Homo sapiens: one gene and its partners. The protein of the gene in region 2 purifies or fractionates together with the protein of the main gene of each other region. This does not show direct contact. Each region holds a gene or a part of one and is shown on either strand. Other genes may lie near its edges.

Region 1 (8,271 bases), on a different chromosome or scaffold from region 2:
ATATAGGACAGAAATAGCATGAAGGGTCAGAGAGGGCAATAAATGTAATTATATTGAGATAATATTACTATATTGTACACAAAGTGAGATAGCATTAGTGTAAGGTAGATTGTGATAAGAATGCATTTTGTAATCTCTCACCCCATCACTGGGGTGCAGTAGATCTAAAAAGCCATTAGAGAAGATAAAATGGGTCACTAAGAATTATGTGATTAGTCAAATGAAATCAAGGAAAGAAAAACAGAGCAAAGAAGTGTAAGATAAAACAGTGGGATGGAAGAGCTGAAATTAATAATGTCACTAAATTGCTTACCTTCCTCCTTCCTGAACTGTTGTGGATTTTTTTTTTTTCAGGGGGTTGAGGTTTTTTTTTAGAGACAGAGTCTCTATTGCCCCAGGCTGGACAGCAGTGGCGTAATCAGTCTCAAAATCCCTGCAGTCTCAAACTCCTGGGCTCAAGTGATCCTCCTGCCTCGGCCTCCCAAAATGCTGGGATTACAGGCAGGCAGAGCCACCACACCCTGCCAGAACTATTGTTTTAAAGTCATTAGGTGGTTAAGCCCTCGAGACTATGTGCAAGTTTGATGATTCGTTAGGAGCACTCACAGGACTCAGCATATAGTCTTATTCCCAACAATGATTTATTAGAGCAAAAGGATATGAAGCAAATTCAGCAAAGGGAAAAAAGGAATTAAGTGAAGTCCAGAGGAAACCAAGCACCAGCTTCTAAGGGTTCTCTCCTAATGAAGTCACACAGGATGTCACTCCAGCAACAAGTGACAGCATGTGAAAGTGTTAAGCCTCACTGTTAGACATAGTAAGCTTGTTAGGGAATAGAGGGAATCTCCCCTCAAATTCAAGTTCCCAGATGCCTGGCAAGGGCCAACCTTGCCAGCAGGACTTTCTGGGGATAGCAGTCCCAGGCACGTGTTTGCACAGTGGTTCAGATCAATGTGCTTACATTGGGTAGAGGGGACCTATGGAAGTCCAAATTTGGGTGTCAGAGACCTAATAGGGTGAAGACAGTGTCTACAATGATGGACAGCTAGGTATGAGGTGTCAGGGACAGATTGAGGCAGTTATTCACATGGTGGATAGGGGCAACCTGGAATGAGGAATAAGCTCAAGCACAGAAAGGGGTGTCCATATGGGGTAAGGGTGTCAGCAGAGATGGTAGATTGGTTGCACACCAAAGACTTGATGGAATAAAGTGAATATACTAACCACAGAGAAGGTAATTATAAATACAGAAAGGGGGGAAACTAGAATGAAACCTGGAGTTCAGCTTGAATTGGGTTTAAGAAAGTGAATTCATGGTTTAAAATCTATAAAAATAGATGAAATATCGGCTGGGCACAGTGGCTCACGCATATAATCCCAGCACTTTGGGAGGCCGAGGCGGGCAGATCGCTTGAGATCAGGAGTTTGAGACCAGCCTGGCCAACACTGCGAAACCCCATCTCTAGTAAAAATACAAAAATTAGCCAGGTGTGGTGGTACACACCTGTAGTCCCAGCTACTTGGGAGGCTGAGGCACGAGAATCACTTGAACCTGGGAGGCAGAGGTTGCAGTGGGCTGAGATCGCACCACTGCACTCCAGCCTGGGCAACAGAGCGAGATCCTGCCTCAAATAAAAATAGAGGACATATAAGCATATAAATATACACGTGTGTATGTGTCCAAATATGTATATTCCCTAGTCTGTCCACCAAGGTGGCCTTGGAGCAGTTATGCTCCAATAATAATGAGCACATAAAGTACCCATATCTTGCCTTCCAAATTCTTCACTGTCTTAGTCTGCTTGGGCTGCATTACAAAATACCATAGACTGGGCAGCTTAAATAACAGAAATTTATCCTCACAGTTCTAGAAGCTTGGAAGTCCAAGATTAAAGTACCAGCCAGTTTGGTTTCTAGTGAGGGCTTTCTTCCTGGCTTGCAGATGGCCACCTTCTCACCGTGTCCTTGTATGGCAGACAGCACAAGCTCTCTGGTGTCCCTTTTTAAAAGGGCATTAATCCCATCATGACAGTCCCATCCTCATTATCTCATCTAACCCTAGGTACTTCCCAAAGGCTGAATCACCAAAGACCATCACATTGCTGGTGAAGGCTTCAACATATGAATTTGAGGGACACGAATATTCAGTCCATAACATCAACTAAAGGAACCAAGACTCTTTGATAAAATGGCTAAATTCAGGGCTGGGGCAGAGAAAATACATGAGTGTGGAACTTCTTGTGCCAGAGAGAAAAAGTGCCCAAAGATTGATGAGGATGAATCATTGAAATGACACACAGATTAAAAGGGTTCCCACTGGACAAATTTGAGCATCAAAATAAGTAATAGTAGTAATTAATTATAACCCATCAGAAGAAATAAACCATGAGCTCATGTGAATATATGAATACAAACATAAACAAATTACAAGCATAATGAGGAATGTGATATTTATATGGTTTAAAGGTACCTCTCCAGGCCGGGTGCAGTGGCTCATGCCTGTAATCCCAGCACTTTGGGAGGCCAAGGCAGGTAGATCACCTGAGGTCAGGCATTTGAGACCAGCCTGCACAACATGGTGAAACCCTGACTCTACTAAAAATACAAAAATTAGCCGGGCGTGGTGGCACGTGTCTATAATCTGCCACTGATTAGGTGTGTGATTTTCCCAAGCAGGGGATAATAGTAGTACCTATGTCAAAGGCTGTTATGAGGATTAAATGAGCTAACACATAATCGTGCTTTTTTTTTTTTTTTTTTTTTTTGAGACAGAGTCTTGCACTGTCGCCTGGGCTGGAGTGCAATGGCACGATCTCGGCCCACTGCAACCTCTGCCTCCCAGGTTCAAGTGATTCTCCTGCCTCAGCCTCCTGAGTAGCTGGGATTACAGGCTCCTGCCACCACACCTGGCTATTTTCAATAGAGACGGGGTTTCACTATGTTGGCCAGGCTAGTCTCAAAAACCTGACCTCGTGATCCACCCGCTTTGGCCTCCCAAAGTGCTGGGATTACAGGCATGAGCCACTGCACCCGGCTTTTTTTTTTTTTTTTTGAGATGGAATCTCTCTCACCCAGGCTTCATCTCAGCTCAGTGCAACCTCCGCCTCCTGGGTTCAAGCAATTCTCCTGCCTCAGCCTCCCGAGTAGCTGAGATTACAGGTGCCTGCCACCACACCCGGCTAAGTTTTATATTTTTAGTAGAGACGGGGTTTTGCCATGTTGGCCAGGCTGATCTCAAACTCTTGACCTCAAGTGATCTGCCTGCCTCAGCCTCCCAAAGTGCTGGGATTACAGGCATGAGGCACTGTGCCTGGCCTCAAATTCTTAGAATACTGCCTACCACATATTGAATGTTCATTAAATCCTAGGTATAGGACAGGGGTGTTGGCTCATGCCTGTAATGCTAGCATCTTGGGAGGCTGAGGCAGGAGGATCACTTGAGCCCAGGAGTTCCAGACCAGCCTGCGCAACATAGCAAGACCTCTCCTCTACTAAAAAAGATTACTGTGGCTGCAGTGTGGAGAACAGATTGTCGATAGATGATAATACCTACGATTTTATTTATTTTTTACTTCTTATTTATTTTTTTGAGATGAAGTGTTGCACTGTTGCCCAGGCTGGAGAGCAGGGGCACGATCTCGCCTCACTGCAACCTCTGCCTCCCGGGTTCAAGCAATTCTCCTGCCTCAGCCTTCTTAGCAGCTGGGATTACAGGCACCCGCCACTACGCCCAGCTAATTTTTTTTATCTTTAGTACAGACAGGGTTTCACCATGTTGGCCAGGCTGGTCTCAAACTCCTGACCTCGTGATTCGCCCGCCTAGGCCTCCCAAAGTGCTGGGATTACAGACGTGAGCACCACACCTACTCAGTTGTTCTGTATACCATTACATGTTCAGCAACCCTAATCCAACCATCTGAAATTAAAATGCTCCAAAATCAAAACTTTTTGATCATCAACACGATGCCACAGTGGAAAATTCCACACCTGACCGCATGTAAAAAGCTGTAGTCAAAATTTTGTTTGATACACACACAATTTTTAAAATTGCATAAAATTACCCTGAGGCTATGTGCATAAGGTGTATACGAAACATAAATGAATTTCAAGTTTAGCCTCTGGCCCCATCCCCAAGATAAAGAGCCACAATCTGAAACAGTTCTGGTCTTAAGCATTTGGGATGAAGGATACTCAACCTATACCCAGTTTTCTACACGACACTACTTATGAATATCTTTTAAAAATTTCTTTATCCCTACTTGTTTTCTGTCTTCCCTACCAGAATATAATTTTCACGAGACCAGTATCTGACAAACACACGTGCTACATATTCAATCTTTATCGAATGAATTTAATATTTTCCAAGTTTTCTATAATTAACATTACTTCTATATTATTAATTTTATAGAGAATCCAAATAGCATTTTATTAAGTAGACCATTAGTCGGTCCGAGTTCAAATTCTGCTACTACAGCAAACTATATGTAGGACTCAAGGCAAGTTTCTTTTTTTTGAGACGGAGTCTCGCGCTGTCGCCCAGGCTGGAGTGTAGTGGCGCGATCTCGGCTCACTGCAACCTCCGCCTCCTAGGTTCAAGCGATTCTCCTGCCTCAGCCTCCAGAGTAGCTGGGATTACAGGCGCGTGCCACTACGCCCGGCTAATTTTTGCATTTTTAGTAGAGCCGGGGTTTCACCATGTTGGCCAGGCTGGTCTCGAACTCCTGACCTCAAGTGATCCGCCTGCCTCGCCGCCGAAAGTGCTGGGATTACAGGAGTGAACCACCACGCCTGGCGGAGGCAAGTTTCTTAATCTTCTTTCCTCACTTGTAAAACTGGAATACTGTCCATTTTCATAAGGTTAAATCATACAACACAGGTAAAAGCGCTTCAGCACGCAACGAAATTTTTCTAACGTAACGAAAAACTCCTCGTTGCTCCTTGCCTTGCCCTTAACCTCAACGCTTCAGGTCCCGACCAATCTCTCGGAGAGCTCAGAGGGAGCCGCTCTAGCCGCCTTCCGCCACGGAGTGCAGGGACAGCCGGGAAGGGGACGGAAGCCGGAGGCCAGAGCACGCACTTCCTCCCACGCTTTCCTCACAGCCAATCGCCCACTGGTGCCCCACCCCTTCCGTTCTGGGAAAACTCGAGCACCCAGAACGGCTTCCGGCGGGAGCTGTGCAGCTCCTTATCATGGTGAGTTGGCTGTTGGGGTGAGGGTTTCGGCTGTAGCTGATTCGGTTTATCTTATTTGGTCCCGAAGCGACCTTGAAATCCCTCAGCCACCCAGAGGAGGGGTCATTGGAGTTGAAGTCGGGCCCCTTGGCAGGAGCGGCTGTCTCCCAAAATGTTCCCCTTCAGAGTTCTGGTCCCTTTCGGTCCCTCACCTGTTCCGCAGGCGCTCACGATCTAGGCCCCGCTGCAGGCAGAGCTTTCAGCTCCTGGCGAGTTTCTGACTTCCCTCTGCCGAGATTTCTTTAAGGTAATAAAAGTTTTTGCCAGCGTCAACAACTAGGCCACCAACAAAAGATCTGAAAACAAGTCCACAGCAACAACTGTAATAGTGATTCTTAGAGCAGTGGCGATAACGCCAGCGGAAAAAAAAAAAAAAGGTTAGTAATAGGGTTTTAGGGCAGACGTCTCACTCTGCAACTTGGCTTTACTAAATATTAAGTAGCCTGATTACGGCAGCAAATTTCATAAGCGCAGTAACTACAGAAAGTCAAGGTGTTGGTAGGACATTTTATTGCTGCTTTATTTCTGGGTTTGTAGAAACTAATGGAAGACCCAGTAGACGTTATGGTTGTTGGGATATGGTGTTTTCTCTCAAATTTGTTAGAATTAGTCATTCTTTGCCTTTAGAGCTCAAATATATAGCTCTGAACTTTAAAGATAAGCAGTTGGTTGGGATTTGAAGTGTCCAAGTGGCGTGTGCCTTTTGAAAATGCATTTATTAGAAAAATTTATGGAGTACTTATTGATAGCCTACGTATGAGAAAGAGACCACATTTCTGTGCCTAAGCTTTTGTCACTGTACTAAGTTTTTTACTTAAGTGGATATGGTCGGGAAAATGCCTCATTCACACACTTTATGTTTTGTAAATTTTCTGTAATCCTTTTGCACACAGAAAATGGGTAAAAGTTTACACTTTTTGGCTAATGATCAAATAGCCTTCAGTTACGCTCTTCTTCAAAACATTCACCATTGTGAAGCCTGTAGCCAGAGTTATATTTCTAAAATTTGACCACATCACTCCCTTACTCAAATTTTCTCCTTTTTTTTTTTTCTGTAGCACTCAAGATAAAGTCCTGTTTAGCATGGCATACAAAGCCACTCATTATCAAGCTTCTTACTTTTACAGCCTCTTTTTTTGTTGTTGTTTTCGAGACGGAGTTCCACTCTTGTTGCCCAGGCTGGAGTGCAATGGCGCGATCGCGGCTCACCACAACTTCCGCCTCCCGGGTTCAAGCGATTCTCCTGCCTCACCTTCCCGAGCAGCTGGGATTACAGGAATGCGCCACCACGCCTGGCTAATTTTGTATTTTTAGTAGAGACGGGGTTTCTCCATGTTGGTCAGGCTGATCGCGAACTCCTGACCTCAGGTGATCCTCCCGCCTCTGCCTCCCAAAGTGCTGGGATTACAGGCGTGAGCCACCGTGCCAGGCCACAAACTCTTTTTTTTTTTTTTTTTTTAATGCATACATGTATGCAACATCCGTATTTCAGCCACAGTGAATAGCTTGCAAATCATGCTGTATTAATTGAGCCTTTGTACCTAATTTGCATATGCTCTTCCATCCCCAGAATTGTTCTCTGTTCTCTATCGGCTGTCCTTATCAGAATAACCCTTATATATCCTTAATTATTTTTCATGAACCTTTCCCTCATGTTCCAGTATCCTCTTAGTTGCTTCTCCTTTGTGCTCTGGTGGTACCTTGTGCTTTTATATGCACAAACACACACACACACACACCAGTTTTGTTACATAAAGCTGCACAAAACGAATACATACAATAGAAACTTAACTTGCCTATAATACTGATGATTTGAAGGGAGTTGAAGATAAAGGGATAAGAGACTTAAAATTCAGAGGTCTTTCAGATTATACACCTTCATTAACTCACAGCCCTAATTTAAGAAAGTAAAACTTGAATCTCTTGTGTTTTTTACCAGTAACATCTGTAATCCTTACAGACGATGTTAAAGTTGTGTACTTATTTGTCTTTCTCACTTTCTAGACTGTAAGCTCATTGAGAGCAGGACCTATGTATTTCACCCTAATTCCCAGAGCTTTGTAGCGTGCCTGGCCCAGAGGAAGTTTTCAATAAACATCTGTTTTATAAGACACTGAAAACTTATGGCACTATATCTTTATGCTTGAAACATTAGTATTAGTCATGCAGGGAAACAGTATTTAAGGTTTATTTTAAAGGATATTGAGAAAAGGTTTTGCGTTTATTAAGAACATGCTATGTGAAAACAGTACTTTCTTAGAAAATATAAAGAAAAATACAAATAAAACGTCTGTTTTATAAAGCACTGAAAACCTATGGCACTATATCTTTATGCTTGAAACATCAGTATTAGTCATGCAGGGAAACAGTATTTAAGGTTTATTTTTTAAAATAAATATTTTAAAATAAAATATTGAGAAAAAGGTTTTGTGTTTATTAACATGCTGTGTGAAAACAGTGCCTTCTTAGAAAATATAAATAATATAAATATATAATATTAAAAATATAAGTATATAAAAACAAAATATAAAGGAAAATAGCCCTTGTCATTAGTGAAGTTACTAAAATTACAAAGCAATGTAACAAGTTGAAGGCTTTACTTTGGTTAATGCAAAATAAGTGGCATAAAAAACACTATAGTTTGGAATGATCTAGGAAGACTTCATTTAAGAAGTGAAACATGAAACTAAGTACTTTGTGCCCCACTCTAATACTCTTAATCTAATACTTGTTTGTCATTATATGAATAAGAGCTTGGGTTAGACAGATCTGGCCTTTTCACGCAAGAGTGGTCATGAGACAAAAGAGTAGACCAGTTTAACTGAAGTTGAGGGTTTCTATCTGGAGTAAGAGATAAGACTGGAAAGAAACAGGCTAAGTCATTGAAAACCTGGAAATTCAGGTTGTAAAATTTGTAGTTTATTCTGATAGCAATGGCGAGCCAATATAATTTTGGGAAGAGTGATATGACATTAGGATTTTTGTTTTATTTTCATTGTCAGGATGGCATCAGAAGTGGCTTTCTGCCTCTTAGAAACC
Region 2 (7,338 bases):
CCTGACTGAAATGTCCCTAATCCCTTAGTGACCACAGGGATTTTTTTTTTTTTTTTTAATGACAGTCTCTCTCTGTTGCCCAGGCTGGAGTGGTGTGATTATAGCTCACTGCAGCCTCAAACTCCTGGGGTCAGGCAATCCTCCCACCTCAACCTCCCGCATAGCTAGGACTACAAGTATGCATCATCACGCCGGCTAACTTTTGTATTTTGGGTAGAGATGGGGTTTCACCATGTTGCCCAGGCTGGTCTCAAACTCCTAAGCTCAAGCGATCCTCCTACCTCAGCCTCCCAGAGTGCTGGGATTATAGGCCTGAGCCACCTTGCCCAGCCCACAGGGGACTTCTTAAAGGCATAAATCAATCTGATCCCTCCCCTGCTCATAGACCCTCCATGGCTCCTCATTGCTTCTCACAGGAAACATAAGACATTCTTTCTGGCGTGCCCATTCTATTCTTGTACCCTAGCAGGGTCCCATAACTCCACCATCACCTCCTTTCTCTCGCCCTGTCCCAACCACGTCAGCCTCCTCGCTCTGCCACCAGCACCCTAAATTTGTATCCATCTCAGGGCCTTTGCACATGCTCCACTCTGTCTGGAATGCCCTTCCCCACAGTCTGCTCAAGTGAATTCCCATCATCCTTCAGGACCTCCCTGATCCTAGGTTGCTCAGGTCCCCTGTGGACCTGCCTCAGTAACAATTAGTATGGCTGTCACTAATTGTTAGTATCATTTACAATTTTTTTTTTTGAGACAGCATCTTGCTCTGTTGCCCAGGCTGGAGTGCAGTGGTGTGATCATAGCTCACTGCAGCCTTGAACTCCTGGGCTCAGGTGGTCCTCCCACCTCAGCCTCCCAAGTAACTGAGACCTCAAGCACATGCTACCACAGCCTGCTAATTTTTTGTTTTGTTTTGTTTTGAGACAGAGTCTTTCTCTGTCATCCAGGCTGGAGTGCAATGGTGTGATCATAGCTCACTGCAGCCTCCACCTCCTGGGTTCAAGTGATTTTCCTGCCTCAGCCTCCCGAGTAGTTGGGACTACAGGCACCCATCACCATGCCTGGCTAATTTTTGTATTTTCTTTTTTTTTTTTTTGTAGAGAGTGGGTTTCCCCATGTTGGCCAGGCTGCTGTTGAACTCCTGACCTCAAGTAATCCACCTGCCTTGGCTTCCTAAAGTGTTGGGATTATGGGTGTGAGCCACTGCGCCCAGCCTAATTTTTGTGTTTTTTGTAGAGACGGGGTTTCACCATGCTGCCCAAGCTGTTCTACTTATTGTTATATTGAGGGCAGGGCTGGCTTGGTCACAGCTGTATCCCCAGCATCTAGCATACAGTAGGTGCTCAGTTAACACTCTAGGGCTGATGAGCACTGTGACAGTTAACAGGATTGGACTCATGCACGTTCACGGATATTCACCTGTCTGTGCCCCAGGTGGCCGAGAGTTGGCCAGGTTCTCTTTGAGGGATGTTTGGTGCCATCCATGACGCAGTCCCTTGTGACAGATTCTGGGAGGCCCTGAGGTGTTGGAAGGGAGTCTCCCAGTGACCCCGAGTTGAGGGACGTATGAGATGGGCATACTGCACCCATCAAAGTTCTGGGTTCCGGCTGGGGACGGTGGCTCATGCCTGTAATCCCAGCACTTTGGAAGGCTAAGGTGGGCAGATCATGAGGTCAGGAGATCGAGACCATCCTGGCCAACACGGTGAAACCTTGTCTCTCCTAAAAATACAAAAATTAACTGGGCGTGGTGGCGCGTGCCTGTAGTCCCAGCTACTCTGAAAGATGAGGCAGGAGGATCGCTCGTATGCAGGAGGCGGAGGTTGAAGTGAGCCGAGATTGTGCCACTGTATTCCAGCCTGGGCAACTCCATCTCAAGAAAAAAAAAAAAAAAAAAAAGTCCTGGGTTCTGATACTGCTCCATGCTGTAAGTGGGAATAGCTGGGGAATCAAGGTAGCCAGGATGGTGGACTCATGGTCACTGAGGCGGTCACCACACAGCTAATATGCATCAAGCCCTTTTGCAGTCAGGGAGCAGTGGCCCCAGTGTGTGTGTGTGTGTGTGTGTGTGTGTGTGTGTATTGGAGCAGGAACCTCAGCACCCCCATGTCCTAATAAGGAAACTAAGACTTCACACAGAAAGGCAGGGCACAGTGACTCATGCCTGTCATCCCAGCCCTTTGGGAGGCCGAGGCAGGTGGATCACTTGAGGTCAGGAGTTCAAGACCAGCCTGGCCAACATGGTAAAACCCCGTCTCTACTAAAAATACAAAAAAATTAGCCAGGCATGGTGGCTCACACCTGTAATCCCAGCTACTCAGGAGGCTGAGGCAGGAGGATCGCTTGAACCCATGAGGTGGAGGCTGCAGTAAGCGGAAATTACACCACTGCACTCCAGCCTGGGCAACAGAACAAGAGAGAGAGAGAGAGAGAGACGCTGTCTCAAAAAAAAAAAACAAAATTAAAAAATTTAAAAAATTAATCCCCAGCAGGGAGGGCCAGGGCACCTGTCAGAGCCAACAGGGGTTGGAGTGCTTTGAAATGGGTCTTGCAAGGGGTGGAGGAGTTAAGTGGGGGGTGAATTTCAATATTTTGCCAACCTGAGCAACTGTACAGGTGCAACCAGATGTTGGGGGCCACAGGAAAAGCGCTTTGCTCATGGCGAGTGTTCAGTGAGTTTTGTTTTCCACAGGAGCCGCCCAGGAGGCTCCTCAGGCCGACCCCAGACCCTGGCTGGCCAGGATGAAGTATCTCCGGCACCGGCGGCCCAATGCCACCCTCATTCTGGCCATCGGCGCTTTCACCCTCCTCCTCTTCAGTCTGCTAGTGTCACCACCCACCTGCAAGGTCCAGGAGCAGCCACCGGCGATCCCCGAGGCCCTGGCCTGGCCCACTCCACCCACCCGCCCAGCCCCGGCCCCGTGCCATGCCAACACCTCTATGGTCACCCACCCGGACTTCGCCACGCAGCCGCAGCACGTTCAGAACTTCCTCCTGTACAGACACTGCCGCCACTTTCCCCTGCTGCAGGACGTGCCCCCCTCTAAGTGCGCGCAGCCGGTCTTCCTGCTGCTGGTGATCAAGTCCTCCCCTAGCAACTATGTGCGCCGCGAGCTGCTGCGGCGCACGTGGGGCCGCGAGCGCAAGGTACGGGGTTTGCAGCTGCGCCTCCTCTTCCTGGTGGGCACAGCCTCCAACCCGCACGAGGCCCGCAAGGTCAACCGGCTGCTGGAGCTGGAGGCACAGACTCACGGAGACATCCTGCAGTGGGACTTCCACGACTCCTTCTTCAACCTCACGCTCAAGCAGGTGCGCTGGACTGGGGTCACCTGATCGGGGCCACCTGTCCTTCTTGTCCAAATTACCACCCACTCCTGAGGGACCCAGGGGACCAGAAGTCCTCGTCAGTCCATCACAGCCCATTCTGCCCCTCTGCTGTCCTCACCAGCCTCGTGGAGACCCAAAATGGTCTTCTTCTAGGAGAGGCTAGGGGGAAGGGCAGAGGAGCTAGGTTACTAGCACAGAGCTCAAGCCTGATGATGCGGATTCGAATCCAAGCTCTGCCTCTTACTTGGTGTTCGACCTTGGAGGAGTTCATTCACCTCTCTGTGCCTCACTTTTCTCACCTGGAAAATGGGATGTGAATGAGTCCCACCCACCTCTAAGGGCTACTGTGAGGTTTACAGGAGATGGAGTTTATAAGGCACCCAGACCAGTGCTGGATGTCCAACTCAACTTGGCAATGACGGGGGACACATCTCCTTGTTTATTTTTATGTTTATTTATTTTTTTTTAATGGAGTCTTGCTCTGTTGCCCAGCCTGGAGTGCAGTGGTGCGATCTGGGCTTGCTGCAACCACCTCCTGGTTTCCGGCGATCCTACTGCCTCAGCCTCCCAAGTAGCTGGGATTACAGGCACTCACCATGCCCAGCTAATTTTTGTATTTTGAGTAGAGACGGGGTTTCACCCTGTTGGCCAGGGTAATCTCGAACTCCTGACCTCAGGTGATCTTCCCGCCTCGGCCTCCCAAAGTGCTGGGATTACAGGCGTGAGCCACTGCGCCCGGCCAACATCTCCTTGTTTATTTGTTCCGGTTCTGTCTCCCCATGAGGCTGGGGGCCTTGTCTGTTTCACTCACTGCTGTGTCCCTAATGCCTAGAATAGATTCAGGTGCACAGCATGTGCTCAGTCAAGACCTTTTTGATGGACAAGAACCCATGAGAGGTAGCTAGGCTTGGTGGCTCATGCCTGTAATCCCAGCACTTTGGGAAGCTGAGGAGGGAGGATCGCTTGAGCCCAAGAGTTTGAGGCCAGCCTGAGCCACATAGCGAGACCTCATCTTTTTCAAAAAAAATTTAATTAATTAATTTTTATGTTTTTTTAATTAATTTTTTTTTTTTGGATGGAGTCTGGCTCTGTCCCCCAGGCTGGAGTGCAGTGGTGCAATCTCGGCTCACTGCAACCTCCACCTCCCAGGTTCAAGTGATTCTCCTGCCTCAGCCTCCTGAGTAGCTGGGAATACAGGTGCATGCCACTATGCCCAGCTAATTTTTTTGTACTTTTAGCAGAGATGGGGTTTCACCATGTTGGCCAGGCTGGTCTCAAACTCCTGACCTCAAGTGATCCTCCTGCCTTGGCCTCCCAAAGTGCTGGGATTACAGGTATGAGCCACCACGCACAGCCTCGTCTCTATTTTTTTAAAAAAAGAAGCCATGAGAGGTGAGAAAATCCTGCCCATCTGCAGATGAGGAAATGGAGGGGCTCTAAGAACCCCTCCTAGGTCCTCGAGTAGAGCAAGACAAGTAGAGACAACATTTTCAAGGAGGAACAGGGAACTCTGCAGGTTCCTGCTCATAGGAGGTACAGACAGGCCTGGGTTCAAGTCCTCTGGTAGCTGTTTCTCTGCGGGTGACCTCACTGCAGTTTTCTCTGGAGAGCCTCTGTTCCCTCATCTGTAAATAAGATAGAGGACCACTTCTGCCTCCTAAGGGTGCATTCAGGATTCAAGGTAGGGTAAGCACCAAGCACAGCGCCCGGCAACAAACAGATACCCAGCCTGTGTAGGTTACTGTAGGGGAAACTGAGGCTGAGGCGGGTAGGGGCCATGGCCTCTTAACATGCTGTGTTCTGAAAACACAAAAGTGGCTAGGCACAGTGGCTCATGCCTATAATCCCAGCACTTTGGGAGGCTGAGGTGGGCGGATCACTTGAGACCAGGAGTTCGAGACCAGCTTCTTGGGAGGCTAAGGCAGCAGGATCGCTTGAACCCTGGAGGCGGAGGTTGGAGTGAGTTAAGATTGTGCCACTGCACTCCAGCCTGGGTGACAGAGTGAGACTCTGTCTCAAAAACAAAAACAAAAAACCCTTTAAAAGTGTGTGATAAACATCAGCTTGACAAATATGAACCCAGCACCCGTGAAGCACTGGCACTATGCTGGGTGCTGAGGGAGATGGCATGAACAGAAAAGAGAGACACAGGCCCAAGGAGGGAAGTCCAGTGTTTGGTGGGAGAGGGGGATGTTAACAATCACACAGGTCAGGCACGGTGGCTCACACCTGTAATCCCAGCACTTTGGGAGGCTGAGGCAGGTGGATCACCTGAGGTCAGGAGTTCAAGACCAGCCTGACCAACATGGTGAAACCCTGTCTCTACTAAATACAAAAAATTAGCCAGGTGTGGTGGTGCATGCCTGTAATCCCAGCTACTTGGGAGGCTGAGGCAGAAGAATTGCTTGAACCTGAAAGGCGGAGGTTGCAGTGAGCCGAGATTGCACCACTCCACTCCAGCCTGGGCAACAAAAGCGAAAACTCCATCTCCAAAAAAATAATAATAATAATAATAAAATAAAAATCACACAAAGGCCAGGAGTGGTGGCTCATTGCTTGTAATGTCAGCATTTTGGGAGGCTGAGGTGGGAGGATCCTTTGAGGTCTGGAGTCTGAGACCAGCCTGCGTAGCATAGCAAGATCCCATCTCTTAAAAAAAAAAAAATTATTAGCCAGGAGTAAGTAGCGGCATGTGTCTGTAGTACCAGCTACTTGGGAGGCTGAGGTGGAAGGATCACCTGAGCCCGGGAATTTGAGGCTGCAATGAACTATGATCATAGCGCTACACTCTAGCCTGGGCAATAGAGCAAGACCCTGTCTCAGAAACAAACAAAATTCATACAAATGATTATTTAACAACAGGGCTTGGCCAGGCAGAGTTGGAAGGAATAGCAATACATGTAAATGTAACAATTTTCCAGCATTTCTTGGTGCTTCATGGAGCATGGTCTCCATGGATTCCCCAACACTCCTAGAGGCACATGATAAGGCCTGTTTGGAGAGTTGAAACCAAGGCACAGAGAGGGTTTCCCAAGTAACCCCACAGGGCAGGGCCTTAACCCAGGCTGGATTGTGGACACTTCCTTTCCTGGGCTTAGTGGGCTGGAGTGGCTAATAGAGACCCAAGGCCAATTTCTCCAGCCCTCAAGCAAGCATGCCCTGTCCACCCTGCCTGCAGGTCCTGTTCTTACAGTGGCAGGAGACAAGGTGCGCCAACGCCAGCTTCGTGCTCAACGGGGATGATGACGTCTTTGCACACACAGACAACATGGTCTTCTACCTGCAGGACCATGACCCTGGCCGCCACCTCTTCGTGGGGCAACTGATCCAAAACGTGGGCCCCATCCGGGCTTTTTGGAGCAAGTACTATGTGCCAGAGGTGGTGACTCAGAATGAGCGGTACCCACCCTATTGTGGGGGTGGTGGCTTCTTGCTGTCCCGCTTCACGGCCGCTGCCCTGCGCCGTGCTGCCCATGTCTTGGACATCTTCCCCATTGATGATGTCTTCCTGGGTATGTGTCTGGAGCTTGAGGGACTGAAGCCTGCCTCCCACAGCGGCATCCGCACGTCTGGCGTGCGGGCTCCATCGCAACGCCTGTCCTCCTTTGACCCCTGCTTCTACCGAGACCTGCTGCTGGTGCACCGCTTCCTACCTTATGAGATGCTGCTCATGTGGGATGCGCTGAACCAGCCCAACCTCACCTGCGGCAATCAGACACAGATCTACTGAGTCAGCATCAGGGTCCCCAGCCTCTGGGCTCCTGTTTCCATAGGAAGGGGCGACACCTTCCTCCCAGGAAGCTGAGACCTTTGTGGTCTGAGCATAAGGGAGTGCCAGGGAAGGTTTGAGGTTTGATGAGTGAATATTCTGGCTGGCGAACTCCTACACATCCTTCAAAACCCACCTGGTACTGTTCCAGCATCTTCCCTGGATGGCTGGAGGAACTCCAGAAAATATCCATCTTCTTTTTGTGGCTGCTAATGGCAGAAGTGCCTGTGCTAGAGTTCCAAC
Region 3 (7,761 bases), on a different chromosome or scaffold from region 2:
AAAAGTTTCTCCCAAAGGGTAATCTGAGCAATGCACCTCATTTCCAACACAATTCCTTTCAACCAACTTTTTTAAATTAAAATTTTTTCTTAATTTTGAATTTTTTAGGCATGGTATCTTGCTTTATTGCCCAGGCTGGAGTGTAGAGGCTATTCACAGACACCATCGTGGTGCACTGCAGCTTCAAATTCCTGGGCTCCAGTGATCTTTCTGCCTCAGCCTCCTGAGTAGCTGGGACTATAGGTGTGTGCCACGGTACCAGGCTCAGCCAGCATTTACTAAATACCTTCTGTGTGCTAGGCATTATGTGTGTTGAATGATAGAAACATGGCCTCATGGCTCCCAGGAAATCCCACATGACTGCAGAACAGTGGGGTCTATGAGTTTTCATCGTCAATTCAAAGGAAGATGTCACAGTTTGGAGGATGCCACTGACAGCTTCATGGCAGAGCTTGGCTACAAGTTGGGCAGAAATGATGGGTGGGGTCTAGGTCGTTGTAGGAAAAAGGAGGAAACATATTGGAAGGAGAGAGCAGGGGGACAGGAGGACCACAGACTGACAGAGTGGATTAGGCAGGAGATAAGGAAGGCTTAGAAGTAAAATAATCTCGAAAGAGTACAATATTTACTTTAAATGTCTTTTTTTTCCTAATAAGGTAACGATTGTTTTAAAGAATTCTGATGTTGTAGAAATATAGAATGTAAACTCCTTGAGATCAATGGCTTTGGATATTGTTTACCTCAAATCCCCAGAATCTAGCACACTGACTCCCAGATGGTAGGTGATCAATAAATATTTGTTGAAAAAAAAACAAATAAATGGAACAAAAGTGAAAGGACCACAGAATCTCACCCATCAGAAGTAAATATAATATAGTTAATGGTTTGGTAAATATTCCTTTAGATTTTTTCCCCTTTCATATGTTAATATATATTATTTTACAAAAATAGGATCATACTATTCATATAGCTCCACGACTTGCTTCTCTTTTCTTTACAATGCATCTTGAACACATGTGTATGTTAAATGCCTACAACTAACTCATGCTTGCAAATAGCACTGTGGTATATTATGGTATTGTACGGATGTGCAATATTTTATTTTATAATCTCTTGATGGAAATTTGGATTGTTTCCAACTTTTTGCTTTTATATACAATACTGCCATAAGCTTCCTTGTATGCATATCTTTTGAGCACTTACGAGTCTATGTTTGTTGGATAGATTCCTAGATGTGGAATTGCAAAATCAAAAAGATGTTAATATTAACATTTCTAATAAATGTTGCCTAATTGCTTTCCAAAAGGTTATACTAGTTTGCATTCCTACCAACAGTGGATGAGAGTGTTTTTTCACATCCTTGCCAACACTGGAATTAATAGCCATTTTCATTTTTGCCAGTCTGATAGGTGAAAAAATATTTCAGGGTAGGTTTATTTTGTATGTATTTTAGAGAGATCGAGCATATTTTCATACTTTTATAAACTATTTATATCCTTTTGGGTGGGAACTGTCTATTTAAATCCTTTGACCATTTTTATTTCTGTTTGTTCTCTTTATTTCCCTATTGATTCACATACTGGGTAAATGTCATCTGCAAATATCTCTTTCTGACTTGCCTTTTGTTTCTGGACTTTGTATTATACTGGAAGCCTTACAGAATTCAAAATTTTTATATAGTCACATTTAGAAATATTTTCCATATGGTCTCTGGTTTTTCTCATTCAATACTTTTATAATTAAATTCCTTCCCTTCCCTTCCTTCCTTCCTTCCTTTTTTTGCTTATTTACTGTGGCATCTTCAGATCATTTGGAATTTATTTTGATGTAAAGTGTGATGTTGGGACTTGATTTGAATTTTTTCCAAATGGTTATCAAGTTGTCCCAATTATTACTTGAATTAGGCACATGTTCCCCACTAATATTTGAAATACCACATCTACCATAGATCATATTAAACTCTAAAAGGAATGTAATAACTCCTATGAAGAGAGCTAATATGACAAATTAAAAGCATCTTCTAGAGATATCTACTTGTTGGTGAGCAGCCGATGACATAACATGGTACTGTTAGTGAACAGATAAGCCCCCTAAAAATAGCAATAAACCCAAGGGCTTTACCTCTGTTGAAAAGATGCTAGATTTCCAACAAGCTCCCAGGTGGTACCAATGCTTCTGGTCTAAATATCATACTTCACTCAGCAAGGTGCTGGACATCTTCCCTTTGCCTTACTGACACTCTCTCCACTCTGTTTTGTGCCCCGGGAGGCTGACTGTGCAGACTGTATCACTCAATCTTCTCAACAACCCTGTTCAGGTGGTGCTATCATTAGATCACCATTTAATAGATGAGCAAATTGAGCCGAGATAAGTAAAGCAACTTGCCTGAGGTCACACTGCAATTCGTGATGGGGCTGGGTTGAGCTCAGGCAAGTGGGCTCCAAGGTTGTGTTCCGACCTCCTAAGCTAAGCTGCCTTTGCATCTCATTGCAGCCTGCCCAACAGTGAGTGGTGTGGTGGGAAATCCTGGACTGTGAGTCAGGAGACCCAGATACAAATCCTCCCTCTACCGCTTGCATGTTGTGTAACCTTGGGCAAGTTGCTTCACTTCTTGAGCCTACATATTCTCATCTGTCAACCTTGCAAGGTTGTCATAGGGTGAAATGAGAAAGTACATGAAAAAGAAAGTCCAGCAGTTTACAGCACACAGTGTGTGCTCAGTAAACAATAGCTTTTATCTGTTACCTGGGGCTTAAGTCCATGTCTTGTAAGGCCTAATTGCATTTCTCTTTTCTCTGTATCTGAACCTCTATTGAGAAGCATTCCAATTTGGCAAGCGGATCCAAGACATTATGAATTGTAATCCTTGTCTGTTTTCTAATCTGACCGCAGATCTTAAATGTGTTGGGTGTCTGAACAGAGGCCAAAGGGCTCAGGTCCAGACCTACCTAACACAACCGCCTTCTGGCATTAACCAGCAGCCTCCATTCTGCGTGGGAAGCAGGCGGGGCCCTGAGCACTGTGGGAAGAGCCACTTCCCTCTAGTCTAATATTAGCAGCAGGTTGTCCTGAGTGGGAGCTGCTTTGCATGGTTCATCCCAAAACCCACCCCCCTCCTGCAACCTGAGGGAGATTTCCTCTGGGGATACCAGTAGCCAAAGGCTGTATGAAGACAACAGCAAGTCAGATTCTACCTCTACCTGAGCCGCCAAGTTCAAGGTCCTCTCCCCACCCTGTGTCTCAGACCCCGCATTTATCAATGAGATAATTGGACCAGATTTGTGCTTTTTAAACTTTCTGGGCTTCTGGTCTCCTTGAGAATATTTGATAAAAAGCTTTGGACCAACTTCCCATGGTAAAACAAACAACAACAAATAGAGCTTACACTCTATCCTTCTACAGGGGATACAGAATGATTCTTTTCCCTGAGCTAGACACCAGCAGAGGGAGTTCCAGATTAATTTAAGATATGATTTGAAATCTCTGCTATCACTTTTACATTCAGATATCTGTGTAGACATTACTTCATCAGAGAAGCTTTCCAAAACCCCCAAACTAGATCAAGTTCTACTATTCTAAGCCCTTTTAGCGCCCTGTAATTCTTCTTCAAAATACTTAACACAATTCTAATTATCTTTTTAATATTTGTCTACTCCATTAGACTTACTTCGTCCCTGGCAGCTCAAGGCTCCCACAGCAGTGATCTCATGAACAGGGCGGCAGCTTCATGGCCTTTTTTGGTTGTTGTTTAATAGAAACAGGATCTCGCTTTGTCATCCAGGCTGCAGCGCAGTGGCGCATAGTTCACGGTAACCTCCAATTCCTGGGCTCACACAATCCTCCTGCTTCAGCATCCTGAGTAGCTGGCACTATAGGCACGTGCCACCATGCATGGCTAATTCTGAAATTTTTCTGTAGAGATGGGAGTCTTGCTATGTTGACCAGTCTCGTTTTAAGCTCCTGGCTTCAAGTGATCCTCCTATCTCGGCCTGGGATTACAGGTGTGAACTATCATGTACAGCCTTCATGGCCTTTTGCTCCTAGCCTCAGAGGTCACAGAGCTATCACGAGGCGAGCCAGGCGAGGGTTTGCTATTCAAGGACTCCAAAGAGTATGGCAGAGGCTGGGCCTGCAGAAGTCAGTGGGGCAGCGTGGTGTCTGTTGATCTCATCGCACCTCCATCTCCTCATCTGTAAAAGGGAGCTCGTAATCCTAGTTGATGGTTGTTTTATTGGACTGTGTAAAGATCAGATGAGATAATGGCAGTAGAATTCATAACACCCTGCAGGGTGTATTCAGCCAACACTTAGCGCCTACAATATGCCAGGCGCTAAGGGTTTTACCACCACTATCTCTTTAATAATGCACCATAGCCCAAGAAGGAAGATGCAAGTCTCAGCCAGCCCACTTGAAGACCCTGCCGAAATGAGCCACCCCGGGGGCTGCGCTTGGGCTGGCGCGGGGCTGGACGGAAAGGGGGCGGCGCGCAGGTGGGGCGGGCCGGGGGCGGGGCGGCACGGCGGTTCCGGGATCCGGGTCCTGGCCTCCACCGCCGCCTTGGGGCGCGCAGATCGCTGGCTGCAGTTGGCGGGCGCATGTGGGGGCGCACGGCGCGGCGGCGCTGCCCGCGGGAACTGCGGCGCGGCCGGGAGGCGCTGTTGGTGCTCCTGGCGCTACTGGCGTTGGCCGGGCTGGGCTCGGTGCTGCGGGCGCAGCGTGGGGCCGGGGCCGGGGCTGCCGAGCCGGGACCCCCGCGCACCCCGCGCCCCGGGCGGCGCGAGCCGGTCATGCCGCGGCCGCCGGTGCCGGCGAACGCGCTGGGCGCGCGGGGCGAGGCGGTGCGGCTGCAGCTGCAGGGCGAGGAGCTGCGGCTGCAGGAGGAGAGCGTGCGGCTGCACCAGATTAACATCTACCTCAGCGACCGCATCTCACTGCACCGCCGCCTGCCCGAGCGCTGGAACCCGCTGTGAGTGCACAGCTCTGGGGAGGAAGCCCGCCCTCAGAGCCCCGGGCCTCAGTTTCTCCATCAGAGCAGTGGCAGGGCGGGGAGCTGGGGTCTCCAGGATGGCGCGTCTTATTGAGTCTTTCTCCGAAGACGATAGTGTAAGAGCTCACATGGGGGCGGGGAGGCAAGAAAGTAAAAAAGACGAAAGTAGAAAAAAAATTACCAGAAATTGGCAAGTCTGTTAGTGATCTCTTAGCTCCCTTCTCCTTGAGAAGTTATCATCTCCCTGAAAAGGTGAGGGTCAGGGCTAAGCAGAAGGGTTTAAGGCGAGGACCCCCCAGCACCCAAAGGACAACCCCGCTCTGCCCGCCTCGCAGTGCCTCCGCGAAACTGACAACTCCTCCGGGCGGTGACCGGCTCCATTCATTCTCTGTGTGTGCCAGGGCCTAAGGGACAAACAAGATGCGAGGGAGCGCCCCACAGGTGAAGCGAAAGATGGCTGTAAGGCCCCCTCAGCGCTAGAAAGCCTCCTTGTGCTCTCCCTGGGCATTGGATTTCTGAGCTTTGGGTGGAGGAAGGCGGGAAGGGGCACGGGGTGGGAAGGGCTCCTTCTGGCCGTGATCCACCCCAGCTCACTCCTGTGGGTGGTGCTGGACTGGAGCCAGCGTGGTCAGAGGCCTAGTTCCTGTTGGAGCTACTGGCTGGGCAGGTTGCGCCCCTGCCTAGGTGGGGATCCAGGGCACACGCTGGCAGCAGGAGGAAGGACAGGTGGCTGCTGCCACCTTTGCCGCTGGGCCTCCCGGGCTCTCACTTTTTCTTCGAAGTGTCAGGGATCTTCCAAGTCCTTTTTTGAGCCCCTTCCTTACAGACTTTGAGGAAAAGAGGACTCAGAGAGGGGGTTCCCATTGGAGCTGGTGGTGGCAGCCTGCCGTGTGCACCAGGCACCTGCCACTCCTCTCCCCTTCAAGCCATTCCTGCTTTACAGGTGTGGAAATAGGTTCGGAAAGGATAGGTGACCCACCCAAGGCCCCTCAGCTGGAATGTGGTAGGACTGGTCTGGAGGGACTATGGCCCTTCTGGCCCACTTGGCACCATGCTGATCTCAGGATTTTAGGGGCCTGCTCCATGGTACCTTGGCCAGAGAGACCATGAATGATGGAATGAGGATGCCCCACCTCTGCCCCACTGTTTCCACTGTCTTCCCTGTTTTGGGGATCTCCTCATGCCTAGCCTCATGCTTCTGCCTGAGGCATTTTTCACTGTTAGTCTTTTTGAATAAAACTTTGTTGGGATTGATAGTAGTTCCTCCACTCACCAGCCTAACGCATGTTTAGCTCCTCGAAACCCCGAGGGTGCCCGCTGAGGCAAGGTGGAGGGGAAGCTTTCAGGTTATACCCAGCTTCAGATTAAATCCAGCCCAGGGGAGATAAAATCCTGGTTCTTTTGCTCGTCACTTCTGTGATCTCTGGCAAGCTGCTTAGCCTCTCAGAGCCTTGGTTTCCCTTCGTTTGCGAAATAGGAAACTCATAAAAGTGAGTCTCCATGCATTCTACATAAAAGTGAGTGGAAAGAACACAACTTAGGAATTAATAAAGCATCAATACCTGGGAGCACACTGTGTGCTTAAATCTTAGTTTTTTCACCTTTCCCTGTTGCCAAGAATGTACTCAAGAGGTTGCTTTTGAGAGTCATCCAGGGATTGGTTGTAGTTTTTCTTTCCTGGATCCAACTTCCTTTATTGTCGCAGGTTGTGAATATCTCTTTGAAACACTGTGGACAATCTGTGGGGCTTATGGTAACCTGTCTCCATGGTGACGCAGCTGCCCTGTGTCCTCTCAGGATTTGCTTGTAGATCCTGCTGTTGCATTGACCCTGGAAGTTAAGCCAAACCCAGCATGATAAGGAGTGTGAATGCCTCCTGCTTCTAATTCCTGCAGCAAGGCCTGTTGGGTTATTCTTACCCAGCCAGAGAGAAAGGTGAGCCTGAGCTGTGTGGGTCTCTGTTGGGCCAGGCTTTGAGATGTAACTTCAGAGTGGTCAGTAGGGTCAGGGTATTTTGTGGCATCTCACTTTTATTACAGTTCATCCAGGAGCTAATCAGGGTCTTGAGATTTTGCCTGAGAAACCTGAATGGCAGATCATAAGTTCACAGTGTGGGTATGGGGTTCTCTGCGAGTCTAATAAACAGAGGGATAATGAGGGTCCTTGAATGTTGCAGGAGGGAGGGCCCTGAGGGAGGAGCATCTAGTCTAACCAGAGAGGAAAAGCCACACCCCCAGGTCACATAGCACATCTCAGGCAGAGCCACAGTCCATATCTGTTACTCGTTCCTCCCTTTTTGGGTGGGGATGATTATTTCTATGTTTATTTTAATTATGAAAGCAATGCATATTCACTCTAGAAATGTTGGCATGCACAGAGAAACAGAAAAGGAAAAAAATGAAAATCCCCAATAAACCTACCACTCAGGGAGAACCATTGTTAACATTTTGCTGTGCCTCCTAGACTTTTAATGAAAGTCTTTACTCTGCAGTGCCTTTTATCAGAGGAAAGGAGTTGGGAATGACTAAGGGACCACTTGGTTTGACTCTTCCTGGTGTCAGCAGGGTGTGGCACTGTGTCTGCCTTCTTGAAGAAGGCCAGACCACTAAAAAGACATTTTAGAGTACTGGTCCTAATTCTGTGAGAGCCAGTATAGACCTGGGCCCCTCTATGAATCTAATAATTTACATGCCAGTGGATTCGAGTATAGTTTTGTTAGTTACAGCACTGAATTGAAGAGGAGGCTAATGATGACTAGGAATCCTTCCTTGCAT
Region 4 (7,338 bases), on a different chromosome or scaffold from region 2:
TCGCTTGAGCCCGGGAGGTGGAGGTTGCAGCGAGCCGAGATCATGCCACTGCACTCCAACCTGGGTGACAGAGCAAGACTCTGTCTAAAAAAAAAAAAAAGTGTGTGTGTTTATGAAATGTACTATGTAAATATGTCTTGGAGATCCTCATAGTCATGATTTTTTCATATAGTGCAGTGCTGGATTTAATTTACTGGTATTTAGAATTTTTGTAAAAGTGATATTTTTGACTTGGATAGCATCCACTCTTTTTCTGTCCTTTAGAATAGCCTGTATAAGATGTTGCTCGGTGGTTTAGTCATTTTTAGGTATGCTGTGGAGAAAGGATTCTGCATTCTTTTGCATTTAGCTTTTTCTACCTGCTTTAATGTAATTTTACTGATTCTGTTACCAAATGCAGCAGCTTTCTTGTGTCTGCCTTAATGTGAGCATTTGCATATGTCTTGTTAATCTTTGTTAGTGTGTGTAATAGTACTTTGAAAAATTTTGGGCATGAATTTTGTCTTTGTTGTTTACTGCCTCATCTCCCGTGCCTAGAATGATTCCTATAATAGAAAATGTTACCAATAAATATTTCTCAAATGAATGAATATCATTATCTGACCTCTTTGGAGATATCTGTATACTTCCAGTCAGTACTTATTTTCATTTCCAGTAAGGTCTATCACTTTCCTCTATGCTTTCATTACCTTCTGGTACTCCATAGCAGAAACTCAGGATTGTTTTAACAAATGTGTAACACTTTTTACAAGTAAATGTTTATTGAATTGATCTGAGTTTAGAGCTGATTCTTTGCGCTAGTGTCAGTATAATTGTAACCATTTATATAATATATTTTTACATACCTTCTGTCCTAACACTTTGTTTTCTAGGCCACGGACACAGTCATTCCCTCTTTAATGGTGCTCTAGATCAGGCACATGGCCATGTCGATCATTGCCATAGCCATGAAGTGAAACATGGTGCTGCACATAGCCATGATCATGCTCATGGACATGGACACTTTCATTCTCATGGTGAGTACAGCCTAGAGACAAATGGACAGCCTCCAAATAAACAAGAGTTTTGTGGATTACTTTTCCTAGTTGAAATAGTTTATTAAAAAGATACCAAATCAACTTCTTTTCTAATGAATCAGTCTAAATGGTTCCCAGGGCTAGTTTATTTTTTGTATAGCATGAAATTAACTCAGTATAAGGCAGTGGATGTTCGCTTTTTTCCAGAGGGTATATCATAATAAAATGCCACTTTTTTATGTATTTATTTTTAATTTTTAATTTTTGTGGGTACATAGTAGGTGTATATATTTATGGGTTACATGAGACATTTTGGTATAGGCATGTAATACATAGTAATCACGTAAGGGTAAATGGGGTTTCCATTCCCTCAAGCATTTATCCTGTGTTATAAACAATCCAATTATACTCTTGGTTATTTTAAAATGTACAATGAAATTACAAATTGACAATAGTCACTCTGTTGTGCTAGCAAATACTAGGTCTTATTCATTCAACTATTTTTTTGTACTCATTAACCGTCCCCCTTTCCCTCCCCTCAAATGCCACTATTTTAAATGAGTACTAGTGAATGAGGAACAATTGCATTTTAGGAAATGAAAATCATAATTTTTTAAGCATCACGAGGCCTTTTGTGCTATATTGGCTTATAAAAATATGGTGGAGGTTTTCAATTTTTCACATTTGTATTATAATTTTTGATGTCTGTCACCTGATGTTTACCTCTATGTTTTTTTTAGAAATCTTTGGATGCTAACTTATGTAGCATTGGGTACTAAGTTATGAGGTGTTTATCAACTTAATATTTTATTTTGAATTATATTTTACATAGTTTATAAAGTATAGCTTAATAGAAGCTGCTTGGGTGACACAATTTGATTACTCTCAGTAGAGTGTATGCTTAAGTATTATCTTGTATTTGCAACATAGACAGAATCCTAAAGCTTTAGAATTGAAAATATGAAAGGGACCTTGAAGAGTGAGCCTTCTAAGCCCTTCATTTTTCAGTCTTTGAAATTTTTCCATGAGGCAAGAAAATAGCTTGAACCCAGGAGGCGGAGGTTGCAGTTAGCTGAGATCACGCTACTGCACTCCAGCCTGGACAATAGAGCTAGACTCTGTCTAAAAAAAAAAAAATTTCTAACTACTCTATTGAGATATGATTGACATATGAAAACAGATAAATATTTAATGTATACAACTTGATGAGTTTGAGGTAAGTATGCACCCATGAAACCATCACTATGATTTCTCCAATAAACATATCCGTTCCCACTGAAAGTTTCCTCCTACTCTCAATTCTTTCTTTTCTTTTTTCTTTTCTTTTCTTCTTTCTTTCCCTCCCTCCCTTCCTCACTTCTTTTCTTTTTTCTTTTCTTTTCTTTCTTTTCTTTCTTTCTTTCTTTCTTTCTTTCTTTCTTTCTTTCTTTCTTTCTTTCTTTCTTTCTTCCTTTCTTTCTTTCTTTCTACTTTTGCAGTAAGAGCACTTAACATAAGATCTACACTCTTGGCAGATTTTTAAGTATACAATACAGTATTAGCTATGGGCACTATGCCATACAAATCCCTAGGACCTATTTATTTTGCACAACTGAAACTTTGTACCCTTTGACTAATATTTCCCCTTTTCCAACTTCCTCCAACCACTGGCAACCACTATTCTATTCTCTGTTGCTATGAGTTTGACTATTTTAGATTCCTTATATAAGTGATATAAATGTAGTATTTGTCCTTCTGTGTCTGGCTTATTTCACTTAGCATAATGTCCTTCAGGATCATTCATGTGTCAAAATTAGAAGGATTTCTTTCTTTCTTTAAGGCTGAATGATATTCCGTTGTATGTATATACCACATTGCTTTATCCATTCATCTGTTGATGGACATTTAGCTTGCTTCCATGTCTTGGCTATTGTGAATAATGCTGTAGTGAATACGGAAGTGCAGATATCTCTTTGAGCTCTTGATTTCAATTCTCATGGATATATACCCAGTTTGCTGATCATACGGTAGTTCCATTATTGTTTTTTTGAGGACCCTCCATACTGTTTTCCATAGTGTCTGCACCAGTTTACATTGCCACCAGTAGTATACAAGGGTTTCCTTTTCTCTACAGCTTTCCCAACACTTACTGTCTTTTGCTTTTTTGGTAATAGACATCCTAACAGGTATGATATGATATCTTATTGTGATTCTGATTTGCATTTCCCTGATGATTAGTGATGTTGAGCATCTTTTAATGTACCTGTTGGCTATTTGTATGTCTTCTTTGGAGAAATGTCTATTTTATTCCTTCGGCCATTTATTACTTTTTTATTTTTTTAATAAATTTTTTTATTTTTAATTTTTGTGGGTACATAGTAGCTGTATATTCTTATTATTTATTTATTTATTTATTTTTGAGATGGAGTCTCGCTCTGTCACCCAGGCTGGAGTTCAGTGGTGCGATATCGGCTCACTGCAACCTCTGCCTCCCGGGTTCAAGTGAATCTCCTGCCTCAGCCTCCCGAGTAGCTGGATTACAGGCGTGTGCCACCACACCCAGCTAACTTTTTGTATTTTTAGTAGAGACGAGGTTTCACCGTGTTAGCCAGGATGGTCTCAATCTCCTGACATCGTGATCCACCTGCCTTGGCCTCCCGAACTGCTGAGATTACAGGTGTGAGCCACTGTGCCCAACCAGTAGGTGTATATTGTTATGGGGTACATGAGATGTTTTGATACAGGCATGCAGTGTGAAATAATCACATCATGGAGATGAGGTATCCTTCTCCTCAGGCATTTATCCTTTGTATTACAAACAATCCAGTTACACTCTTTTAGTTATTTTGAAAGGTACAATTAATATTGACTGTAGTCACCCTGTTGTGCTATCAAATAGTAAATCTTATTCATTCATTCTTTTTTTTTTTTTTTTTTTTTTGTACCCATTAACCATCCTCACTCCTGCAGCACCACACTACCCTTCCCAGCCTCTGGTAACCATCCTTCTACTCTCTGCTTCCATGAGTTTAATTGTTTTGAATTTTTGTACTCCACAAATAAGTGAGAACATGCAATGTTTGTCGTTCTGTAACTCTTTGACCATTTTAAAATCAGGTTATTTATTTACCTTTGCTGTTGATTGTGAGTTCTGTATATATTTTATCAGATACATAGTTTGCAAATATTTTCTGTCATTCTGTAAGTTGCCTTTTCATTTTGTTATTTGGTTCCTTTGCCTTGCAGAAGCTTTTTAATTTGATGTAATCCTTCTTGTCTATTTTTGCCTGTTGCCTGTGTCAGTCTCTAAAATATCCTGTATTTTTATAACAGTTACACTGGTATGCTTTAAAACCTTGCTTTTCCAACTTTTTTGCTCACATGCATCCCAAAATAATGTTGAAAAACTGCATATCTCTTACACTTTTGGCTATCAGCTGGATTTTTCAGGGTAGCTACTTCTTCATTCCCATACAGCAGTACAATATCTAGATAGGAAATATTATATGGTGTTATGCTTTTATATTTCTTTGTTACATTATTGCAGAACATTGTTATAATGCTCTATCAAAGCTGTACTGATAAGGGTACCTTGACCTTTTTGGTGCTGTGGGCCATGAACAAATGATGATAGTAGGTACATTGTTAGTTGTGATCAGAAAGCTTGTCAGTCTTCCTGATGATCTGTTTAAACAAATATTGCTCATCTTTTGCCTTGTTTTCCTATATTTTCTGTTTTAATGTTAAAGCTGAATAGTAATTTTCAAGATGTTTAGAGATAGAAATTATAGCATTTTGTCATCATAAAAGCAAAATGAAAAAAATTATTTTTATCTCTTCTGTATCAAGAGTTTGCCACATTAATCTAGAAGCTGTTGAAAACTACTGTTTACCATAGTCAAGTTATCTTTCTATCCTGGCTTCATTTCTTGGACCTCATAACTTCAAGCAGTACATTTGGGTTTCTCTGAATTTTCCAATTGTAAGAGTATTAAAAGATATTTTATGAATACTGGAAGATTTTCACAATGTCTTTAATTTCCTGTGCTTTTAATCTTTTTAATACAATAATTTCTGAAATACTCCATACTTTTGATGAATTTTAAAACTACTGCCACTAAATTTACCTCCACTCAATTATTTTATTAAATTTAAAAAATAAATTTGTAAGTTTGATATGGCTATATAGCCATGCATTCTTGATGATGCATTTGAATGAAAAGGACTCTGAATTGTAAAAACTTGAATGAGGAATTGAAAACATGTTTTAAAATAACTTAATTCTCTACAGATGGCCCGTCCTTAAAAGAAACAACAGGACCCAGCAGACAGATTTTACAAGGTATGACAAGCAATTTTTATGTTTCTTAGTTTTTTGAAACTGCTTTTATAGTTTTGAAGTTTTAGTTGTCTGAAGTTTTCCTTTAAGAAAAATATAAAACATAGTGTTTGTGTTTAGTGTTAGCCTTTCTAGTGATTGTTTTTTATATACTATTAGATATATTAGCAGACATTCTTTTAATTGTCACTTGACTGTTTTCTCTGATTTGATAATAAAAGCAAAATATAGAGCTGGGTGCACTTGGCATGTCCCCACAATCCCAGCTACTCAGGAGAATTGCTTGCTTGCGCCCAAGAGTTTGAGACCACCCTGGGGAACATATGAGACTCGTATCTCAAAAAGATTCGGAAACTATTCTGCTTGAATATAAGTAATACCCATGCCTGTGACTATAAACATTGTATAGATGCTTCTTGATTTACTGTGGGGTTGTGTCCTAATAAACCCGTGGTAAATTGAAGATACTGTAGGTTGAAAATGCATTTAATACACCTAACCTACCGAACATCATAGTTTTGCCTTGCCTACCTTAAATGTGCTCAGAACACTTGCATTAGCCTACAGTTGGGCAAAATCATCTAACACAAAGCCTATTTTATAATAAAGTGTTGAATATCTCATGTAATTTATTTAATACAGTCCACTGTAGAGTACAGTATCAGTTGTTTACCCTTGTGATTGCTTGGCTGACTGGGAGCTGCCGCCTGCTGTTGCTGCCCAGCATCATGAGAGATGATCATAGCACATTATTGCCAGCCCAGGAAAAGATCAAAATTCAAAATTTGAAGTATAGTTTCTACTGAATGCATACTGCTTTCACACCATCATGAAGCCAAAGTCATAAGTTGATCATTTTAAGTCGAGGACTGTCTGTAGGAGTATGTTTGCTTTTACAGGATTATTATGTAGTTTTTCCAAGAATAATATTTAATATGTTTTTATGTTGTGGGAAAATTTAGAGCTAAAGATTTAATGCAAAGTGAGAACTCCATAATATTTGTAGGCCATCAATAGCTAATACATGTGTAAAATTGTATATTACAAAGTTTTACATGCCAGAGAAAATCCTGTCTATGAATTATAGTAATTTTTTTTTGTTTTGTTTTGTTTTTGTGGGTGGGGCGGTAGGTTATTAATCAATCTCTGGCTCTGAGTTTCCATTTAGACTTTATTGTCAGGGTTTCCTAATTCCCAGCTATCTACTTGCCTTTATTAACTTTTGACTTCAGTCTGACTTTCTGAATGGCTTCTGATCCAATCTCAACTGCACCTATTTGTCTTCACTATTTCTTTATATAACTCTCGTTTTTTATTTTTTCACTGTGAATATATTCCTTCATACTGAGAAATTTATTTTCAGAAGGCTTAAATGTGTCTTCCAATCACAGGTTTTCCATTTACAAAAGATATGGAATTGTTTTAGAATAACATTTGCTGAAATAACATATAATCATGCATATATGATGCATCTATATCAAGTACTATAAATTAGCCTTGATAATAAGAATTTAATTTTGAAAGTCATCACAAGTTGGAGGAAAGGAAGTTAGATTTGCCTTTCTAATTCTCTTTTATATAAGTTATTGTGAAAATAAATTTATATTTTCTGAATATTTATCAATTTATGGTGGCTGAAGAGCCCAGTAAATAGCTGAAGAACAGAGAAAACTACCTGGCATTAAAAACTTCTTGTAAAATGACCAGGTAGATAGATACTCATACATGAAAAACTTGAATTAATTATGTTTTTCAATTATATGCTACATCTTGACTCCTGGCTTACTAAGGTTTTGGGGGGTTAGGTTATCAGTATCCTACCACATCTTCTAAGGCTTTTAACTTTGTATAAGTTAAACATCCTAGTTTATGTTTCTTTCTTAGTGATTTTTTTCTTAAACAGTTTATGTAGTAAGAAGGCTTTAGGTAGTTTTAATGACACTTACTAATAAAACCAGTTTTCAGGTTAGCAAATAAATGGTAGCCAGGGACTTTCCAGTCTAA

Evidence for each region.
Region 1: the proteins of B3GNT3 (region 2) and SLC30A6 purify together in Homo sapiens (affinity purification with mass spectrometry; 3 studies listed by BioGRID and IntAct, with this or other methods). This does not show direct contact.
Region 3: the proteins of B3GNT3 (region 2) and GALNT12 purify together in Homo sapiens (affinity purification with mass spectrometry; 2 studies listed by BioGRID and IntAct, with this or other methods). This does not show direct contact.
Region 4: the proteins of B3GNT3 (region 2) and SLC30A7 purify together in Homo sapiens (affinity purification with mass spectrometry; 2 studies listed by BioGRID and IntAct, with this or other methods). This does not show direct contact.

The regions. Positions count from the first base shown.
Region 1 is NC_000002.12:32,160,711-32,168,981, forward strand, and holds the start of SLC30A6 (zinc transporter 6), read left to right. Parts: upstream 1-5,153; 5' UTR 5,154-5,190; coding exon 5,191-5,193; exon of another isoform or gene 5,194-5,479; intron 5,480-8,271. UniProt on the Homo sapiens protein: Has probably no intrinsic transporter activity but together with SLC30A5 forms a functional zinc ion:proton antiporter heterodimer, mediating zinc entry into the lumen of organelles along the secretory pathway.
Region 2 is NC_000019.10:17,805,067-17,812,404, forward strand, and holds part of B3GNT3 (N-acetyllactosaminide beta-1,3-N-acetylglucosaminyltransferase 3), read left to right. Parts: intron 1-2,691; 5' UTR 2,692-2,741; coding exon 2,742-3,308; intron 3,309-6,504; coding exon 6,505-7,056; 3' UTR 7,057-7,338. UniProt on the Homo sapiens protein: Beta-1,3-N-acetylglucosaminyltransferase involved in the synthesis of poly-N-acetyllactosamine. Has activity for type 2 oligosaccharides.
Region 3 is NC_000009.12:98,803,104-98,810,864, forward strand, and holds the start of GALNT12 (polypeptide N-acetylgalactosaminyltransferase 12), read left to right. Parts: upstream 1-4,566; 5' UTR 4,567-4,595; coding exon 4,596-4,966; exon of another isoform or gene 4,967-5,103; intron 5,104-5,961; exon of another isoform or gene 5,962-6,856; coding exon of another isoform or gene 6,857-6,922; intron 6,923-7,722; exon of another isoform or gene 7,723-7,734; coding exon of another isoform or gene 7,735-7,761. UniProt on the Homo sapiens protein: Catalyzes the initial reaction in O-linked oligosaccharide biosynthesis, the transfer of an N-acetyl-D-galactosamine residue to a serine or threonine residue on the protein receptor.
Region 4 is NC_000001.11:100,912,791-100,920,128, forward strand, and holds part of SLC30A7 (zinc transporter 7), read left to right. Parts: intron 1-872; coding exon 873-1,016; intron 1,017-5,286; coding exon 5,287-5,337; intron 5,338-7,338. UniProt on the Homo sapiens protein: Zinc ion transporter mediating zinc entry from the cytosol into the lumen of organelles along the secretory pathway.